4 separate regions of the Homo sapiens genome follow, and all the other regions are linked to region 1. The links come from fine-mapping of genetic effects on gene expression. A gene starts in region 1. Each other region holds a variant in brackets. All regions are shown on one strand. Distances are from middle to middle.

Region 1 (5,155 bases):
AAATATCTATAGCTGGAGATAAATGGCAAAGTTGTCCAGCCAGGTAGGTTCCCAAAAGTATTTTAATTTTCTTAATGATTATGTCTGGGGTTACTTTGGTACTTTTCTTACAAGCAAACTTTGTGGCCATAGGCCTCTCCATTTTAAAAAGAATAATTAAATTCTCTACAAAATTACTTTCATTCTCCTTTGCTGAGGGCTTTAGAATCTTCCAGTCCTGTGGAGTTGCTCAGTTTCTTCCCTGGATCCTGTTTTCAAAAACAGACAGAAGGGCAACCCGCTCGGGTCCCCTTCCACACTGTGGAAGCTTTGTTCTTTCGCTCTTCACAATAAATCTTGCTGCTGCTCATTTAAAAAAAAAAAAAAGGAAAGGAAACAGGCCACAGACAGAAAACAGGCCACTGATTGCCTCAGGATTAGGAATGCAGAAGGGAGGATCACAATGGAGCAAGAGTAATCTTTTAGGGGTGATGGATATGTTCATTTATCTTGGCTGAAGTGATGGGTTCACAGGTATATAGATATGTCAAAACTTATCAAACTGTACACATTAAATATGTAAAGTTTATTATATGTCAATTCCACCTAAAAAAATCTGTTAAAAATGGAATAGATACAATATTTATAAAATACATGCAGGTTATAACAAATCATGAAACAACAGAACACTCCCTGTATCCATCACCCAGTTTTTTAAAGTAAATGTTTACTATTTTTAAAAAATTATTTTTTTCTGTGTTCCCTAGCCACCCTAAAGCTCAGGCCTTTTTCTTTTTCTTCTTTCTTTTTTTTTTTTTTTTTTTTAAAGAGATAGAGTCTCACTATGTTGCCCAGACAGGATTTGAATTCCTGGGCTCAAGGTATGCTTCTGTCTTAGCTCCTCAGTAGCTGAGACCATGGGCACCCACCACTGTGCCCAGATTCGGGCTTTCTTGTAAAAAGCGGATGGATGCTTGAAACTATTTTCTGAATCCCTTTGGCTCCCAAATGTGAATATTCTGGGAAATATTTTTATCCAAATTAGCTGAGTAATCGAGTAGTTAGGCACATTTTGAAGACTGAGGCTTGTCCTTTAAAAGAAGGGCAGCCCACAAACTGACTTCCTTGAGCCAAAAATTGTTTTAAAAGGGGAAGTACAGCCCAAAACAGTGATTTTAAAATATCAACAAAAAGAGTCAAATTCTGTAAAATATTTAAAGAGATTTATTCTGAGCCAAATATGAGTGACCATGTCCTGTGACACAGCCCTCGGGAAATCCTGAGAACATGTGCCCAAGGTGGTCAGGGTACAGCTTGGTTTTCTACATTTTAGGGAGACATGAGGCTTCAATCAAATACATTTAAGAAATACATTGGTTCAGTCCAGAAAGGCAGGACAACCCGACGCGAGGCAGGGAGCTTCCAGGTTATAGGTACGTTTTAAATTTTTCTGGTTGACAATTGGTTGAGTTTATCTAAAGACCTGGGATCAATAGAAAGGAAATGTCTGGGTTGCAATAAGAGTTGTGGAGACTGAAGTTTTATTATGCAGATGAAGCCTCCAAGTAGCAGGCTTCAGAGAGAATAGATTGTAAATGTACTTAAGGTCTGCGTTGATGTGAATGCCGGCTTGAGGTATAATGAGGCATATCTGACCCCCACTTCCCCTCATGGCCTGAAACAATCTCTCAAGTTAAATTTTAAAAGCGCCCTGGCCAAGGAGAAAGTCCATTCAGATGGTTAGAGGCCTTAGAACATTATTTTTGGTTTACAAAAACGTTGAGTTGTGAACACTGAGAGCCTCTGCCCAGAATGTAAAAGAGAGAATTCTTGCTGACTGTGGCCGGGCATGCATGTCCTTTCACTTCCTTTTTTTTTTTTTAAAAAAAAAAAAAAAAAAAAAAAAAACAGGGTTTGGGCGGGGGAAGTAAGGGGGATGTGTTATGATAAAGGGGCCTTGGCAGCACTCTTCTGGTGTGGTTTGACCAGGCTCCACCCACGAATTCTGTTTTCTTTTAGAGGTCACTGGAGAGCCCGGTGGGGTGTAAGTACACTGCGCTTATAAAACTCTAGCAGGAAGCTAGCAGCTGTCTCCAAACCCAGAGAAGGGGAAACAGGAATCGATTAGGAATAAAGGATTATAATCCACTTTCCTTCTGAGGAAAAGCTGGGAACCTTCTCATTTTGCCTTATGAAAACTAAGCTGAATCGACTGCTGCCAAACATCTATTAGGCAAAATTGGCCTCTTGCCCATGATTTGACTTTCCAGCACAGCCAGTTCTTTTTCTCCTCTGCAGCTGATTGGCTCTGGAGTGTGGCCAGAAGCCTCTCTCCTGCAATTAAAGGAGTCGGGTCTCTAACTGTTGATCTGTTTTTTTCCCTTCTGAGCAATGGAGCTTACCATCTTTATCCTGAGACTGGCCATTTACATCCTGACATTTCCCTTGTACCTGCTGAACTTTCTGGGCTTGTGGAGCTGGATATGCAAAAAATGGTTCCCCTACTTCTTGGTGAGGTTCACTGTGATATACAACGAACAGATGGCAAGCAAGAAGCGGGAGCTCTTCAGTAACCTGCAGGAGTTTGCGGGCCCCTCCGGGAAACTCTCCCTGCTGGAAGTGGGCTGTGGCACGGGGGCCAACTTCAAGTTCTACCCACCTGGGTGCAGGGTGACCTGTATTGACCCCAACCCCAACTTTGAGAAGTTTTTGATCAAGAGCATTGCAGAGAACCGACACCTGCAGTTTGAGCGCTTTGTGGTAGCTGCCGGGGAGAACATGCACCAGGTGGCTGATGGCTCTGTGGATGTGGTGGTCTGCACCCTGGTGCTGTGCTCTGTGAAGAACCAGGAGCGGATTCTCCGCGAGGTGTGCAGAGTGCTGAGACCGGTGAGTGAAAGGGTGTGAGGAGGACTAGTTAGTAGCAGCTATTATCATAGAGGGCAGGCCTGTCAATTTCAGGTGGCTGAAACATTTTAACATAAAAAGTAAACTACTAGAAAATACTGTAGAATTTTTTAAAATTTTAGCGTGGGAGAGAAGCTATAAAGAGAAAGATTGATAAATCTGAATATAAAAACTTAAAACTGCTATAAAGAAAAAACCTCCTGGCCGGGCACAGTGGTTCACGTCTGTAATCCCAGCATTTTGGGAGGCCAAGGCAGGCAGATCGCTTGAGGTCAGGAGTTCGAGACCAGACTGACCAATATGGTGAAACCCCATCTCTATTAAAAATACAAAAATTAGCCAGGCATGGTGGCAGGTGCCTGTAGGCAGGAGAATCGCTTGAACCTGGTGGGGCAGAGGTTAAAGTGAGCCAAGATTGCACCACAGCACTCCAGCCTAGGCAACAGAGTGAAACTCCATCTCAAAAAAAAAAAAAAAAAAAAAAAGAAAGAAAGAAAAAAAAGAATAAGAAAAAAAAACTCCCCAAAACAAAGTTAAACTACAAAACAAGCTTGGAAAAAATATTTGCCAGGGATGATAGACAAAGGGTTAACTTCCCTCATGTTAAAAGACATTACATGTCAATAAGATCAATATTTTTCAATAAGAAAAACAAAAGGGAAAATGGGCAAATAACAGGAACAGAAATGTAAACCAATTATAGGACAAAAGTGCTCAAACTTAAAGAGTTAATTAAAGGAGATACTAATTTTACCTATTATACTGTTAGGGACTTCTTTTAAGGTCAGTATAGGGTTGGGGTGGGTTTAGGGGACTGGACACCACCATACACATTAGAAGAGGTACCCTCTTTGGGTGGTATCTGATAATATCAAAATTTAAACCACACATACTCTTTTATCCACATGCAAAAACTTGTCCATACACAAGAATATTAAGTAGAATTTGTAATTGCACAAACTGGAAATAACTGAAATGTCTATCAATAGGATGCTATGTAAGTGAGTTGTCATATTGTATAAAGGAACACTGTGCAGCTGTCAGAAAGAACAAGAAGAGTTATCTGTGCTGATACTTAAAAATCCCCAAGGGATAATGTTTAATGAAAACAAAAAGCAATCAAGCCACAGAATGTTAGGTAGAGCGTAGGCCCACCACATGCCCATTGTGTGAGGCAGGGAGAGGAGATACATATATGTGTATAAGTTAATGGGAATGACAGACAAGTAACTATTAACAGTGGTTGCCTTTGGGGAATGGGATTGGATTCAGGGAAAGAATTACTTTTCATTTTAAACCTTTCCGTAAAGTCTGTAATTCTTTATACCTGTATGTAGTTTTCACATATTACCCTTATTATTTTTAGCTAGTTTAAAATCGTTTTATATTCTGAACAAAGTTGAAGATATGGATATCTTAACATTTGAATTTACTCTTCTGGGGGAAAGGCATGTTTTGTAATCCCCAGTTTTCATTTTTTGTTGAGACAGGGTTTCCCTCTGTCACCCAGGCTGGAGTGCAGTGGCATGATCACAGCTCACTGCAGCCTTGACCTGCTGGACTCAAGCAATCTTTCCGTCTCAGCCTCCCCACCCTCCCAGCAGCTGGGACTACAGGCATGCACCACCACACCCAGCTAGTTTTTGTATTTTTGTAGAGATGAGGTTTCGCCATGTTGCCCAGGCTGGTCTCAAACTCCTGGGCTCAAGTGGTCTGCCCACTTTGGCCTCTCAAAGTGTTGGGATTACAGGTGTGAGCCACCATGCCCAACCATCAGTTTTATTTTCTAATAGAGGAAGTTCCTCAGGAAGAAAAGAACTTGGAGATAGGGTTTAGGGAAAATCATACAATCCTGTCTTGGCTCAATATCAGAGTAGTAAATAAAAAAGGACTGATTCTTATACCCAAATGCTGGGTTCTTATATGCTAAGACTGGGCACCAACTGGCACATTAGTAGATGTTTTGCTTACAGTGTTACTAATCTCCCAACACCGCTGCAAGGCAGGTAATTATTATCTCAGTTTTCCAGTGCCAAAAATCAATTGAACTCTTAAAGTTATCACATTCGTGATAGTCTTCCTTAGCTCCTGCCAAGCACCCACTCTCTGCTGGATATAACAAGGGAACTTTATTACATTTTCATTTAACCCTGTCAACAGTCCTCTAAAGTACATATCTTCATGTTAGGACAAAGAAACAGACTCAGAGAGATTAAGGAATTTGCCCAAAGTTACACAGCTAGTAGACATGGCTCTCTTTAATGCAAAT
Region 2 (5,155 bases), 30 kb after region 1:
CCTCTGCCCTCATCTCTAGGTCCACATGGCTGCAGTCGGAGGGAGGCGGTGAGCAAGGTGTTCTCCAAGGTCTCAAGGGGCCCCAAGGCTACAAGGTCAGAACAGAAGCAAAGGCCACGTCCACCACCGACCCACCTCAAGAGCCACAGCCTCTCGGGTCTCCACAGCCCCACTCAGGTCTCACACACAGGCGCAGGGACTAGCCACAGGTGCAGCAACGTCACGTCTTTCCCCTGGGCGCGTGTGCAGCTCGAGGCTTTGCAGGAGGCGCACCTGCGATGGCCTTACCGCCAGGTGAGCCCGGCGGGCTCTCATCGCCTCAGCCGGAGATTCCAACTGCAGGGAGCGCACCTCCTCTGGCTAGGGCGTGTTTCCGAAGGATGGCAAGAATCCTGGCCTCTGATGGCTATCTTCTCCCCTTCCCCTCCAAGCCCAGTGTTGTGACCCTGTGCCCTCTTTCCCCTCAATTTTGGGCCCAGGAGTCAGGTACTAAGACTCAACAGTCACAGAGGGAAGTCAGGAGCTCCCTTGTGAAGGCAGACTTAAGCAAATGCATCTTCTTCCAAAGCCTTCATGTTTTTCTTAATGTTGGCTTCAAAAGCCTAGTTTGTGGCCCAGGCTGCTACTGGTGAGTTTCTAGCAGGGTGCTGGAAATCTTGGCCAATACCAGCCGACCACTCCCCCAGTCCCCTGGGGCGTGTTTCTGGGCTTTCCCATTATCAATTAGTTGGAAATTGCACATCGTGTCCTGGCCTTACAACAAACACCTGTTCTGATCTACAGCCTCTTGCTGAAGGAACAACAGGAGACAGACAGCAGGTGGCGGGGTGTGCCACAGGTATTGTGCTTCTTACGCTTAAGTTTTCTGATGAAGTCTCATTCATAGGATGAAGCCGCTGTATTTGAATTCTGGGGTGAACACAATAAGCTGCACAGGGAACAGACTCAGGCGCTGCTAAATCTGTTGTGATTATAGTTGCTTTTGCAAGTTTCTTCATTCATCCTATGTAGACAAGCCAGGCTAGACAAGGAATCCATTGTCTAGCATAGCAACTGGCACACAGTAGGTGCTTGGTAAATATCTGAATGACTTTATAATGCCCTGCACATTCTGCAGAGTTGAAGTGATCATTCTCCCAATACCTGTAAATCTGGAAGTATTTTTGCCTATGTTGGCACTGCCATACTTCTTTAAAATGATACTTTAAAAAGAAAATGTGTTCTTCAAATACAGTGCTTGTGGAAGAAGTCCTGAGGTTCCCAGTGATCTCAAATGCTGAGCAGTGGAAAGGAGACTGAATAACAGCATTATGATCTGTGTTTTTACTCTGTATTCATGAAATCTGATTATCATTTCCTCTATGTATTTTTTTCTTATCCCCTTCCCCTGCAAAATGAAAAAATTCGGTAGTGAAAAGTGTGAAGGAAAGACAATTGTTTCAGTTGAGCAGATAGGCTTATCAAACAAATGAAAACAAAAAAACACATAATCAAGAGTATGATGGGAGAGGAAAAACAAATTATTTTTAATGATTCACGGCAACCACATTTATATCCTATTGTTACTAGAGAAAAAAATGTCTTCAGATAACCAGTGGTCAGCAGATGAGGATGAAGGCCAATTATCCCGACTAATCAGGAAATCTAGAGACTCCCCCTTTGTCCCTATAGGTAAGTACAAGCCTTGACTGGATGCAGAAAACTGTAATAACACAATGATGCCTTACCCAGTGCCTTTGCGGATTGAAATGTTTCTTATAATTGAATTTTTTCAGATAATTGAAGCTAACCTCCTCTAAGCATGTGTTGAACTTTCAGAATAGTTCCTAATACATGGTAAGCCCCCAGTAAATGTTAGCTGTTATTTGAGGCATCAAATTTTATTCTATTTTATCCATTTCATTAGAAGTCTACCTAAAATTATTAGTTCCTAGCCAGTCAAATGGAATAGATTGAATGAATATTAACATTTCAGTCATAACTCAGGACCATCAACAGCAGCATCAGTTTATTATATTTAAAGCCTATTAGGGACTATTGAGATGCATATGTCTCTTTGTCTT[G/C]TAAGTAATCTAAACTTTAAGTTCTTACATCTTCTGTTTATAGATTTTTCTGTTTCTATCTTACTATTGGGCACATTAAAAACTTCTGCTTCTAGGCCGGGCACGGTGGCTCATGCCTGTAATCCCAGCGCTTTGGGAGGCCGAGGTGGGAGGATTGCTTGAGCTCAGGAGGTGCAGGTTGCGGTGAGCCAAGATCACACCACTGCACTTCAGCCTGGGTGACATAGTGAGACCCTGTCTCAAAAACAAACAAACAAATAAACAAAAAACCAAAAACTTCTGCATCTAATGTTTTTAATGCTCTGTAGCACCAGAAGCTAGATAACCAAGCTTGAAAGAACTGTGGGTCAATTCAGAGGAAAGCTCTGAGTAAAAGCCTGGATCTATCTGAACACTTGTGAGCATGAACTTTGGAGTGGTCATTTTGGCTGCTCAGTGGCCCTCTGTGCTGGCTTCTTGGTGTGCTCCAGGTGTTGAGTTTGATGGCAAAATAAATTCTGGACTAAAGAAGTGATACTATAATTAGGCCGGGCACAGTGGCTCACTCCTGTAATCCCAGCACTTTGAGAGGCCGAGGCAGGTGGATCACTTGAGGTCAGGAATTCAAGACCAGCCTGGCCAATAGGGTGAAACCCCATCTCTACTAAAAATACAAAAAGTTGGCTGGGCATTGTGGCACACACCTGTAATCCCAGCTACTCAGGAGGCTGAGGCACCAGAATCACTTGAACCCGGGAGGTAGAGGTTGGGTGCAGAGCGAGACTCCATCTCAAAAAATAAAAAAGAGAGATACTATAATTAGATCACCTAATAATCTGGACCCTTAGCCTCTTTATCCTTTCCCCACACATATTTAGTATGTTTACATTTTCAACAAGTATTATGTGTATGTGGACTTTAAAAAACCCCACAAAACCTAAGCACCAATATTATGTTTTGAAGTCTGAGCTTTCTCTTTCTTCTCCATGGATGTATACTGCAGCCATGCCTGTTTCCTTGTGTTCATTTTGTCTGGAAACTATTAAAATAGTTTACTTAAATCAGACTGACATAAGTTTGCAAAAATATTAATTCCATAAAAACTTCTAAATAGGTATGTCAGATGTTCCCGTTAAGTGTTACTCTGACTCTAGCAACTTCCTAAGTGTCATTATTCACATATCAAGAAAGAATCAAATTTTACTTTACAGTAATATTCTGTTTAGAAGTTTTAAGACTTATAATAGCACCCATAAGAAATGGAAGCAAATAATTTAATAGTGATTTATCTTCCTTAGCATTTTTAGTTAAAAAAAATTCGAAAACTCAATGCTACTTGAACAGATCACTATAATGAACAGAAATTAATTAATAAACAGAGACAAAGAGACATACGCACCACTGTGCCTGTTGTATATTAAATTATTTTTCCAGAGACATTTAGGATGATTAAAGTGGAAAGATAAAAGTGTTTCCAGCTAAATTCAATTATAAACAAACTAGAGACACTATATGGAAAACAGTAAAGGTTCTGACTTTAATCTCCAAAAGAAACAAAACCAATTTAAGTAAGAACAGAACTTTCATTTGATTAAGGGAATAGAGATAAGTTTTTGCTAAAAAATAAATAATGATAAAATTTGGTAGGCTGGGCACAGTGGCTCATGCCTGTAATCCCAACACTTTGGCAGGCCAAGGTGGGTGGATCACTTGAAATCAGGAGTTTGAGACCAGCCTGGCTAATGTGGTGAAACCCTGTCTCTACTAAAAATACAAAAATTAGCTGGGTGTGGTGGCAGGCGCCTGTAGTCCCAGCTCCTCAGGAGGCTGAGGCGGGAGAATCACTTGAACTCAGGAAGTGGAGGTTGCAGTGAGCCAAGATTGCGCCACTGCACTCCAGCCTGGGCAACAGAGCGAGACTCCATCTTAGAAAAAAAAATTGGATATATATCATTGAATAATTTGTTTAGCTATTGTCATTTTAACAATATCTACTATGTATTTTCCTGCTACAGGATGGAGGGTCCTATGCAGGTAACTTACAAAACATTTTTTGTTGGTTATCTTAAGCAACTTCCATCATTATAAATATATTTACACTGTTCAAATCATCTTACAATCACTGTTAAGGTCTCTGCATGCATTATATCTATTTAAAGTATGTGTTGACAGATTATTTGGCTTTGCTTGTTTCACTTAACAGCTCATACGTGCATTTCTGTGTATTAATACTCCCTATTCTTATTTATTTTTATAGCAATGGCAGTTTTTCTTCTGTTTGGGTTATTTAGGTTTTCCTCAAACATAGTGTAGCCCTGAACATCTTTGTGTCATTTTCTTGATTTTTCTTTTGGTTATTTCCTTGGAGTATGTTCCCAGAAGTAGAATTTCCAGAGCAGGAAGCATGTTCAGTTTAATATCATTTGTTATATATTTCCAGAGTTCTTTCTAGAAGGACTTGGCCAAACTTACAGAGCTTTCAGGGTTTTACCTGTTTCCTCATATGTCTACCATCATCATTTTGTTATTTTTTTTTTTGCTGTTTTTATGTCTGTAGCACATTAGTCATTTTTATTTATTGTGGATCAGTGTATAAAATATACATGTAAATGTAATGATTTACTGATTCTTATTTCCATTTATTAAATGGATCATGAAAGAATAAATATATCCTTACCCACCCATAGACACACATATGCCAACATAGTTATTCCAAACATGCTATCCACATAAAAATTACTTGCTTTTTTTTCTTTTTTTTTTTAAAGACAGAGTTTCCCTCTGTCGCCCAGGCTGGAGCGCAATAGCACAATCCTGGCTCACTACAACCTCCACCTCCTGGGCTCAAGCGATTCTCGTGCTTCAGCTTCCTGAGTAAGCATGCGCCACCACACCTGGCTAATTTTTGTATTTTTAGTAGAGACAGGGTTTTACCATGTTGACCAGGCTGGTCTCAAACTCCTGACCTCAAGTGATCCATCAGTCTCAGCCTCCCAAAGTGCTGGGATTACAGGAATGAGCCACCATGCCCACCCAGCCTGCATTTCTTCTTTTAATCGATCCTTACATTTAGATTAAAATTTGCATTTCTATATACTAACAAGAAGCATCTG
Region 3 (5,155 bases), 54 kb before region 1:
ATTAAAATTATATCAAGAACTCTCTTGGACCACAGTGGAATAAAATTGGAAATCAACTCCAAAAGGAACTTTCAAAACCATGCAAATATATGGAAATTAAATAACTTGCTCCTGAATAATCATTGGGTCAAAAACAACATCAAGATGGAAATTAAAAAGTTCTTCAAACTGAATGACAATAATGAGGCAACCTATCAAAACCTCTGAAATACAGCAAAGGTGGTGCTAAGAGGAAAGTTCATAACCCTAAATGCCTACATCAAAAAGATTGAAAGGACACAAACTGACATTCTAAGGTTATACTTCAAGGAACTAGAGAAACAAGAAAAAAAAACAAACCCAAACCCAGCAGAAGAAAGGAAACAACGAAGATCAGAGCAGAACTAAATGAAATTGAAACAAAAAAAAAATACAAAAGATAAGTGAAACAAAAAGCTGGTTCTTTGAAAAGATAAATAAAATTGATAGGCCATTAGCAGGATTAACCAAGAAACGAAGAAAGAAAATCCAAATAACCTCAATAAGAAACGTAACAGGAGATATTACAACTGACACTACAGAAATACAAAAGATCATTCAGTGCTACTATGAACACCTTTATGCACATAAACTAGAAAATCTAGAAGGAGTGGATAAATTCCTGGAAAAATACAACCCTCCTAGCTTAAATCAGGAAGAAATAGATACCCTGAACAGACCAATAAAAAGTAGCGAGATTGAAATGGTAATTTAAAAATTACCAACCATAAAAATCCAGGATCAGATGGATTCATGGCAGAATTCTACCAGACATTCAAAGAAAAATTGCTACCAATCCTTTTGACAATATTCCACAAGATAGAGAAAGACAGATTCCTCCCTAATTCTTTCTATGAAGCCATCATCACCCTAATACCAAAACCAGGAAAGGACATAACCAAAAAAGAAAACTACAGACCACTATTCCTGATGAACATAGGTGCTAAAACCCATAACAAAATACTAGTTAACAAAATCCAACAACATATCAAAAAGATAATCCACCAGCTGGGCACAGTGGCTCACACCTGTAATCCCAGCACTTTGGAAGGCCAAGGTGGGCAGATCACCTGAGGTCAGGAGTTTGAGACCAGCCTGGCCAACTTGGTGAAACCCTGTCCCTACTAAAATTAGAAAAATTAGCTGGGCATGGTTGCAGGCGCCTGTAATCCCAGCTGCTTAGGAGGCTGAGGCAGGAGAACTGCTTGAACCCAGGAGGCGGAGGTTGCAGTGAGCTGAGATCGTGCCACTGCACTCCAGCCTGGGCGACAGAGGGAGACTCCCAGCTACTCAGGGGGCTAAGGCAGGAGAATTGCTTGAACCCGGGAGGCAGATGTTGCAGTGAGCCAAGATTGTGCCACTGCACTCCAGCCTGGGCAACAGAGGGAGATTCCATCTCAAAACAACAACAACAACAAAAAACAAAACAAAACAAAACAAAAACCATGATAATCCACCATGATCAAGTGGGTTTCATATCAGGGATCCAGGGATGGTTTAACATACACAAGTCAATAAATGTGAAACACTACATACACAGAATTAAAAAAAAAAATCACATGATCATCTCAATAGATGCAGAAGAGGCATTCGGCAAAATCCAGCATCGTTTTATGATTAAAACTCTCAGCAAAATCAACATACAAGGGATATACCTCAATGTAATAAAAGCCATCTATGACAAACCCACAGCCAACATAATACTGAATGGGGAAAAGTTGAAAGCATTCCCTCTGAGAACTGGAACAAGACAAGGATGCCCACTGTCACCTCTCCTCTTCAACATAGTACTGGAAGTCCTAGCCAGAGGAATCAGACAAGAGAAAAAAATAAAGGGCATCCAAATCAGTAAAGAGGAAGTCAAAGTGTCACTGTTTGCTGACAATATGATTATTTTCCTTGAAAACCCTAAAGACTCCTCCAGAAAGCTCCTAGAACTGATAAAAGAATTCAGCAAAGTTTCCAGATACAAGATTAATGTACACAAATCAGTAGCTCTCCTATATACTAACAGCAGAGAATCAAATCAAGAACTCAACCCTTTTCATGATAGTTGCAAAAAAAAAAAAAAATACTTAGGAATATACCTAACAAAGGAGGCAAAAGACCTCTACAGGGAAAACTACAAAACACTGCTGAAAGAAATCATAGATGACACAAACAAATGGAAACACATCCCATGCTCATGGATGGGTAGAGTCAATATTGTGAAAATGACCATACTGTCAAAAGCAATCTATAAATTCGATGCAATCCCCATCAAAATACCACCATCATTCTTCAAAGAATTATAAAAAAGAATTCTAAAATTCATATGGAACCAAAAAAGAGCCCACAAAGCCAAAGCAAGATTAAGCAAAAAGAACAAATCTAGAGGCATCAAACAACCTGATTTCAAACTATACTATAAGCCCATTGTCACCCAAACAGCATGGTACTGGTATAAAAATAGGCACATAGACCAATGGAACAGAATAGAGAACCCAGAAATAAACCCAAATACTTGCAGCCAACTGATCTTCAACAAAGCAAACAAAAACGTAAAATGGGGAAAGGACACCCCTTTCAACAAATGGGGCTG[G/A]GATAATTGGCAAGCCACATGTAGGAGAATGAAACTGGATTCTTGTCGCTCACTTTGTACAAAAATCAACTCAAGATGGATTAGGGACTTAAATCTAAGACCTGAAAGTATAAAAATTCTAGAAGATAACTGGAAAAACCCTTCTAGATATTGGCTTAGGCAAGGATTTCATGACCAAGAAGCCAAAAGCAAACGCAATACAAACAAAGATAAATAGCTGGGACTTAATTAAAGAGATTTTGCATGGCAAAAGGAACAGTCAGCAGAGTAAACAGACAACCCACAGAGTGAGAGAAAATCTTCACAATCTATACATTTGACAAAGGACTAATATCCAGAATCTGCAACAAACTTAGACAAATCAGCAAGCAAAAAAAATCCCATCAAAAAATAGGTTAAAGACATGAATAGGCAATTCTCAAAAGAAAATATGTAAATGGCCAACAAACATATGAAAAAATGCTCAACATCACTAATGATCAGGGAAATGCAAATCAAAACCACAATGCAATACCACCTTACTCCTTCAAGAGTGGTCATAATCAAAAAATTAAAAAAAAAAACAGTAGATGTTGGCATGGATGTAGTGATCAGGGAATGCTTCTACACTGCTGGTGGGAATGTAAACTAGTACAGCCACTATGGAAAACAGTGTGGAGATTCCTTAAAGAACTGAAAGTAGAACTGCCATTTGATCCAGCAATCCCACTACTGGGTATCTACCCAGAAGAAAAGAAGTCATTATTCAAAAAAGAAACTTGCACACGCGTGTTTATAGCAGCACAATTCGCAATTGCAGAATCGTGGAACCAACCCAAATGCCCATCAATCAACTAGTGGTTAAAGAAACTGTGAAGGCCGGGCGCGGTGGCTCACGCCTGTAATCCCAGCACTTTGGGAGGCCGAGGCGGGTGGATCATGAGGTCAGGAGATCGAGACCATCCTGGCTAACAAGGTGAAACCCCGTCTCTACTAAAAATACAAAAAATTAGCCGGGCGCGGTGGCGGGCGCCTGTAGTCCCAGCTACTCGGGAGGCTGAGGCAGGAGAATGGCGTGAACCCGGGAAGCGGAGCTTGCAGTGAGCCGAGATTGCGCCACTGCAGTCCGCAGTCTGGCCTGGGCGACAGAGCGAGACTCCGTCTCAAAAAAAAAAAAAAAAAAAAAAAGGAACTGTGAAAAAAATATATATATATGCCATATATATGTACATATATATGACGTATATGTACATATATATGACGTATATATGTACATATATATGACGTATATGTACATATATGACGTATATGTACATATATATGACGTATATGCACATATATATGACGTATATGTGTACATATATATGACGTATATATGTACATATATATACGTCTATATATGTACATATATATGACGTATATATGTACATATATATGACGTATATATGTACATATATATGACGTATATATGTACATATATATGACGTCTATATATGTACATATATATGACTATATATGTACATATATATGACGTATATATGTACATATATATGACTATATATGTACATATATGATGTATATATGTACATATATATGACGTATATATATGTACATATATATGACGTATATATATGATGGAATACTACTCAGCCATAAAAAAGAATGAATTAACGGCATTCGCAGCGACCTGGATGAGATTGGAGACTATTATTCTAAGTGAAGTAACTCAGGAATGGAAAACCAAACATCATATATTCTCGCTGATATGTGGGAGCTAAACTATGAGGATGCAAAGGCATATGAATGATGCAATGGACTTGGGGGACTCAGGGGAAAGGGTGGGAGGGGGGCGAGGGATAAAAGTCTACAAATAGGGTGCAGTGTATACTTCTCAGGTGATGGTTGCACCAAAATCTCACAAATCACCAGTAAAGAATTTACTCTTGTAACCAAACACCACCTGTACTCCAATAACCTATGGAAAAATAAATAAAATAAAAAAGAAAGCCAAAAGACAATGAAATATCTTCAAAATGCTGAGAGAAAGTAACTATGAGCCTACAATTGTGTATCCAGCAAAACTATCATTCAATAATATCTGTGAACAAAAAGTGAATTTACTACCAACAGTCTTTCACCAAGGAAGTAAAAGAAATATCAGAAAGAATGTAAATGATGCTAAAAGGGAAGTATAAGACGTAAGAAGGAACAAAAAAAGACATGGATAATATATAGGTAAATGTAAATAAACATTCTCCGTACACAACAGTTGTTCTCACTTGGGCATAATTTTGCCCCCAGGGAACATTTGGTAACATATCTGGAGAAAATTTTTGGATGTTAAAACTGGGCAAGCGGATAAGTTTGCTACTGGCATCTGCTCAACATCCTTCAATGCATAGTATAGTTCTCCCATCTCCCACACAAAGAATTGTTAGGCCCAAAATGTCAGTAGTAGCAAGACAGAAACCTTAAAATCATAAAAATAATGTCTAAGTTGTGGAGGAAAGGCAGGTATTTCAGGAGGGGTGATCAGAGTCAAACTGGTTTCAGGTCCCTGTATTATTCAGGAGAAGT
Region 4 (5,155 bases), 920 kb before region 1:
CTAATCCAAGAGGAGAATAATGCAAAATGAGAGTCCCAAAATAGATTTCACATAGCAAAAACACTTTAGTGTCATTTTATCAGGACAAATATTGGCTTCTACGGATCAAAGCAGCCACCCACCTCTCAAAGTAGTGGAGCAAAATGCATTAAAATGGATACAAAGCTATAATGCACTGGAACCAGACAATTTGAGTTTACTGAGGCATCTAACACTGTATACCAAGATGGATTAGTCCCTCCCAGTAAAGGCTTTCCTTTGCATTATGACCCATCCTGGCACATCAAAATGATAGTGTTCTGTGTCAGTCACATTGCTCAACTGGTTGAATACATCTAGCCTTTTACCCTGAATTAGAGAGGGGTGATGAAAAGAAGAGTCACAGTTGTCTTGCCTGTATGTATGACAAAGTACCAGCTACTCATGTAAGGATGGATATTCCGGGTAGCACTTAAAATAAACAATGAAGGATGGCCAATAACTTGTGACAGATCAAGTACGTTAGGATCTCCCTCCCTCCCTTTTCCTCTAATTCTTTAAGTTCTCATTTGAAATCTGTCTGTTAAGTAAGTTTCAAGTCTAAGTGACAAAAACATTTAAATTTCAAATTATGAAGAACAAGATTCCTAGTCTGCAATTTCAGCTCTAATCATGGGCAAGCTGTTAAAGAACAGGTCACTTTCAGTTCTTTAATGTGGAAGAAGAAACTAGGTATATTTGGCAAGTGGAAACTGTCAGACAATGCCTTCCCCCTCCTGCATCATCACTGTTCTAGCACGGAAAACAATACACACCAGCTTTTCGCAGTCAGCCTCAGCTCTCTGTCTCCGTTTGATCTCTACATCCACCTGATTACGTGCATGCTTCAGCTTAACATCCAGAGCACTTCGCTCAGTCTCTGCTTTCATCAAAAGATCCTTGTATTTCCCCAGCTCATGGTCAGTCCTCTGCCACTTTTTACGGAAATCCTCAAAGTCCTTCGCCAACTGGATAAATTCTGAGGAAAGGGGGAATCTTTAATAATTCAAGCACCAAACAGAGTATAACTGCTCTAATAAATGAGTCCTACGGTTAGCTTTATTTGAAATTCATAATTAAGGAACCAGCTGAACTATGGGCAAATCCAGCTGAAAATAACTAGGAGCAGATCCTGGATATGTTTGTCACTCTGATGAGAACTTTGTGGGTAGCAATTCCTATTCAATAGGCCACTTACTTTTGGCTTAGCCAGTGGCATCTGCTATGGAATATGTAACTCATTAGTCACCTGGCTCCAGATGTAACACTAACACTGAAAGCTCCTGAACAGAAGGCAATCAAAGGGGGATACCTTTGGGGCAGCTGTCATGCACCAGGACAGTTACAGCTATAAAACAAAAACAGTTTCCTTTACAGTCACGCATTGCTGCACCAGAGAGATGTTAAACAGCAAATTCAAATGTAACTGCTGTAATATGCTCCAGTAGATGTAGATTAATATTACAGATGTCTAGACCTACAATTCCATTTGGCTATATAATTATACAAATATTGATTTGAAAGTAAAAAGCCAATTTGCTTTTGCTGTTTAACACTGCCCTGAAGGGTATGTAAACATTCCAGTTGAAAAAAAAAAAAACAGGAAGAGAAGATCAAACTAGCTTTTGGAACATCCCTGATAGCAGAATGTGAAGTCTCTTCAAATGTCTGCAAAGAGAACATCACTTCCAAGGCAGCATCTCAAAGGAAGAAGATAACCCTGTTGGCATTCATTCTTATCTCCTGCTATTGGCAAAGCTGTTCTGCAATGTATTTGCAAAAGTGCCTTACAATTTTCTAGTTAACCTCCGTCTATCTCTAAGGATCACTCTCCACCAACATCAAGGAAGAAGGTCTCAAGGTGTACATCTGCTGCTGGTCAAACTAACCCAGTTAAAACTGAAACTAGGCCAAATTCACACACAGCTAGCAGATTCTTAGGTAGTAAGGGCACTTTTCCCCTATGAATTTAACCTAAAAGCA[T/C]AGAAACAATACATAGTCCTTTTTAAACAATTTTAATCATTTGACCAAATATCAAACTTACAAATCAGGATACCAATTTGTTCCAGAAAAACCAAGTAATAAGGAAACTTTAGTTTTTACAAACCACAAATTTCAGCAAAATAGGTTATTATGACCTAGTTATCTTAAACAATGCGGATATCAACAATTAAAAAAATATTACAATTCAAATAGTTTTAAGAAATAATATGCTGGGTTAGTCTGGAACATACTACTTTTTTGTGGGTTTTTTTTTTTAGCTTAAAGAAAAAAACATATATGTTTGCAAACTAAATACCGTATGCATACACACTCAAAATATTTACCGAACTGAAAAACAATTTTGAGAATAAAAAGATTTTCATCTGACCTAATTTTGCTGGTTTGTTTGTTCTTTAGGATACTCCTTTTATTAAATTACTGCTTCAGCTTAGTTTAAGTCAGACCCAAAGCAGAACATTTACATACCTGATTAATATATTACTTTTTGTGTGTGCAGGTGAGAAATGTGAAAAAAAAAAAAAAAAAAAAAAAAAGATATTACTTTTTTTTTTTTTGAGACAGAGTTTCACTCTTGTTGCCCAGGCAGAAGTGCAATGGCGCAATCTTGGCTCACTGCAATCTCCGCCTCCCAGGTTCAAGCAATTCTCCTGCCTCAGCCTCCTGAGTAGCTGGGATTACAGGTGTGTGTCACCATGCCCAGTTAATTTTTGTATTTGTAGTAGAGACGGGGTTTCACCATGTTGGCCAGGCTGGTCTCAAACTCCTAACCTCAGGTGATTCACCTGCCTTGGCCTCCAAAAGTGCTAGGATTACAGGTGTTAGCCACTGTGCCCAGCCTACTTTTCACTTTTGAGACAGTCTTCCTCTGTCACCCAGACTGGAGTGCAGTAGCACAATCTTGGCTCACCGCAACCTCCGCCTCCCAGGTTCAAGCAACTCTCCTGCCTCAGCTTCCTGAGTAACTGGGACTACAGGCGTGTGCCATCACACCTGGCTAATTTTTGTATTTTAACTAGAGATGGGGTTTCACCACGTTGGCTAGGCTGGTCTCAAACTCCTGACCTCAAGTGATTGACCTGCCTCAGCCTCCCAAAGTGCTAGGATTATAGGCATAAGCCACCATGCCCGGCCGAAAGATACTATTTTTATGTACAATTCTGCTATGAGCAAAGTTTGCTGGGATTGGGTCAGAAGGCATTTTGGGCCATAGATCAGAAACAATTTTGATGTTGAAGACCAATAATCATGGCACTGTTTTGGTCAGTTGGTGAATCACAATTCAGCTTGGTACCAGCCTGCCATGAAGTGCACATTAAAAGCTTTATAAAATTCAGGCCGGGCACGGTGGCTCATGCCTGTAATCCCAGCATTTGGGGAGGCTAAGGCAGGCAGATCACTTGAGGTCAGTAGTTCAAGGCCAGCCTGGCCAACATGGTGAAACCCTGTCTCTACTAACACAAAAATTAGCTGGGTGTGGTGGTGTGCGCCTGTAATCCCAGCTACTCGAGGAGGCAGAAGTCGCAGTGAGCTGAGATCGTGCCACTGCACTCCAGCCTGGGCAACAGAGTGAGATGCTGTCTCAAAAAAAAAAAAAAAAAAAAAGATTTATAAAATTCAAATTACAGTACCTCCTTTAAAAAGTTACGTACACCCTAAACTATGAAGTGCCCCTATCAAAAAGGAGGAAAGAGAAGGGAAATTTCCTCAAAACAAATTGAGGGTGATCTTTGATTTATTTAAAATTTAAAAATCAGGATTTGGTTCATAGCTCAGCAAGCAAATTTAAGTGGGTCCAGAAATCCTGATTTTTTTTTTCCATTTACTCCCGGAGGCCTTTGAACAGGCTCTTCCATTTGCCTTCCCTACTACCCTCTCTAAGCTTCTTAAAGACAAAGACCCTATGTCTCCTTTGCTCTTTTATCTCCAGTGTTGTAACCTGCCTAGCACACAGTAGACACTTGAAATAATCTGTTGAACAAATGAATGAATGAAAAGCCGCTGTTCAAATTAAATTTACCAGCATCCAAGACCACCTTACCAGTTTAATCAAACTTACCTCCCACCACTATGCAATAAATACCCCTCTAGCTAAACCAGTCTGTCCCTGCCCCCAGAACAGAGGCATTCCTGCCTTCTCACTTGTGACCAAGCTATGCACTCCAAATGGAATGCCCTACCTATTACATACCCATTTACCAAGTCCCATCTGGTCTGTGAATCTTTTCCTAATCAGTTTGCTACACACTAAATTTTTCTAGATTACCCAAAAGCATATATTTTGATACTTGTACTATCTTCTGTTTCATGAGAAAAAAATCCTGTCTCTGAAACTAAAATACCATAATCTTCTTGAAGACAGGCAATATGTCATATATACTTCATTATTTCCTACTATGCATAGTGTAGCACAAACCTAGTATGTCACTGGCACACAACAGGCACCTGATAAATGTTAAATTATACTTATTCCTAATTTATACACCAATGATTTTTTTTAAAAAGCTCAGGCAGCTTATGAAAAATTAAAAATAGAACATAAAAACTGTGTGGACTGGAGAAAACAAGACAACAAAATATGCTATTAAAGTCATCTTTTTTAAAATATTAACTTTCATTCTGATCTTCCTGTAACTTGGACTTAGCTCTCTTTTTTTAACTTTTTTTTTTTTTTCTTTTTTAAGAGATGGAGTCTCACTCTGTTGCCCAGGCTGTAGTGCAATGACATGATCTTGGCTGACCACAACCTCCACCTCCTGGGTTCAAGCAATTCTCATTCCTCAGCCTCCCAAGTAACTGGGATTACAGGTGAATGCTACCACGCCCGGCTAACTTTTTGTATTTTTAGTAGAGACGGGGTTTCACCATGTTGGTCAGACTGGTCTTGAACTCCTGACCAAGTGATCCACCTGCCTTGGCCTCCCAAAATGCTGGGATTACAGGTGTGAGCCACTTTGCCCGGCCCGGACTTAGCTTTTTAAAAAACAATACAGGCCAGACACCGTGGCTCACGCTTGTAATCCCAGCACTTTGGGAGGCCAGGACAGGTGGATCATCTGAGGTCGGGAGTTCGAGACCAGCCTGACCAATATGGAGAAACCCCACCTCTACTAAAAATACAAAATTAGCCAGGCGT

The links. PIP is the estimated chance that this variant, and not a neighbour inherited with it, causes the effect. A credible set is the group of variants that fine-mapping cannot tell apart.
Region 2: its variant is the best candidate, but not a certain one, in a credible set for the expression of TMT1A in whole blood (TOPMed, PIP 0.60).
Region 3: its variant is the best candidate, but not a certain one, in a credible set for the expression of TMT1A in whole blood (INTERVAL, PIP 0.75).
Region 4: its variant is the best candidate, but not a certain one, in a credible set for the expression of TMT1A in whole blood (INTERVAL, PIP 0.53).

Annotation. Positions count from the first base shown.
Region 1 is chr12:50,922,669-50,927,823 of GRCh38, forward strand. It overlaps TMT1A (thiol methyltransferase 1A), which reads left to right and starts at 2,347. Exons shown (of 2, transcript NM_014033.4): 1 at 2,347-2,868. The coding sequence starts at 2,371. RefSeq lists enhancers at 1,461-1,670, 2,684-3,227.
Region 2 is chr12:50,952,422-50,957,576 of GRCh38, forward strand. It overlaps HIGD1C (HIG1 hypoxia inducible domain family member 1C), which reads left to right and starts at 123. Exons shown (of 5, transcript NM_001109619.4): 1 at 123-294; 2 at 784-838; 3 at 1,570-1,671. The coding sequence starts at 1,578. It also overlaps a transcript of SLC11A2 not described here. RefSeq lists an enhancer at 205-705. The variant G/C (reference allele first, on the strand shown) is at 2,064.
Region 3 is chr12:50,868,777-50,873,931 of GRCh38, forward strand. All of the region lies in intron 3 of TMPRSS12 (transmembrane serine protease 12), which reads left to right. Among named protein-coding and RNA genes, the nearest start is that of TMPRSS12, 28 kb to the left of the region's middle. The variant G/A (reference allele first, on the strand shown) is at 2,600.
Region 4 is chr12:50,005,640-50,010,794 of GRCh38, forward strand. It overlaps RACGAP1 (Rac GTPase activating protein 1), which reads right to left. Exons shown (of 17, transcript NM_001319999.2): 3 at 795-997. Among named protein-coding and RNA genes, the nearest start is that of RACGAP1, 17 kb to the right of the region's middle. The variant T/C (reference allele first, on the strand shown) is at 2,002.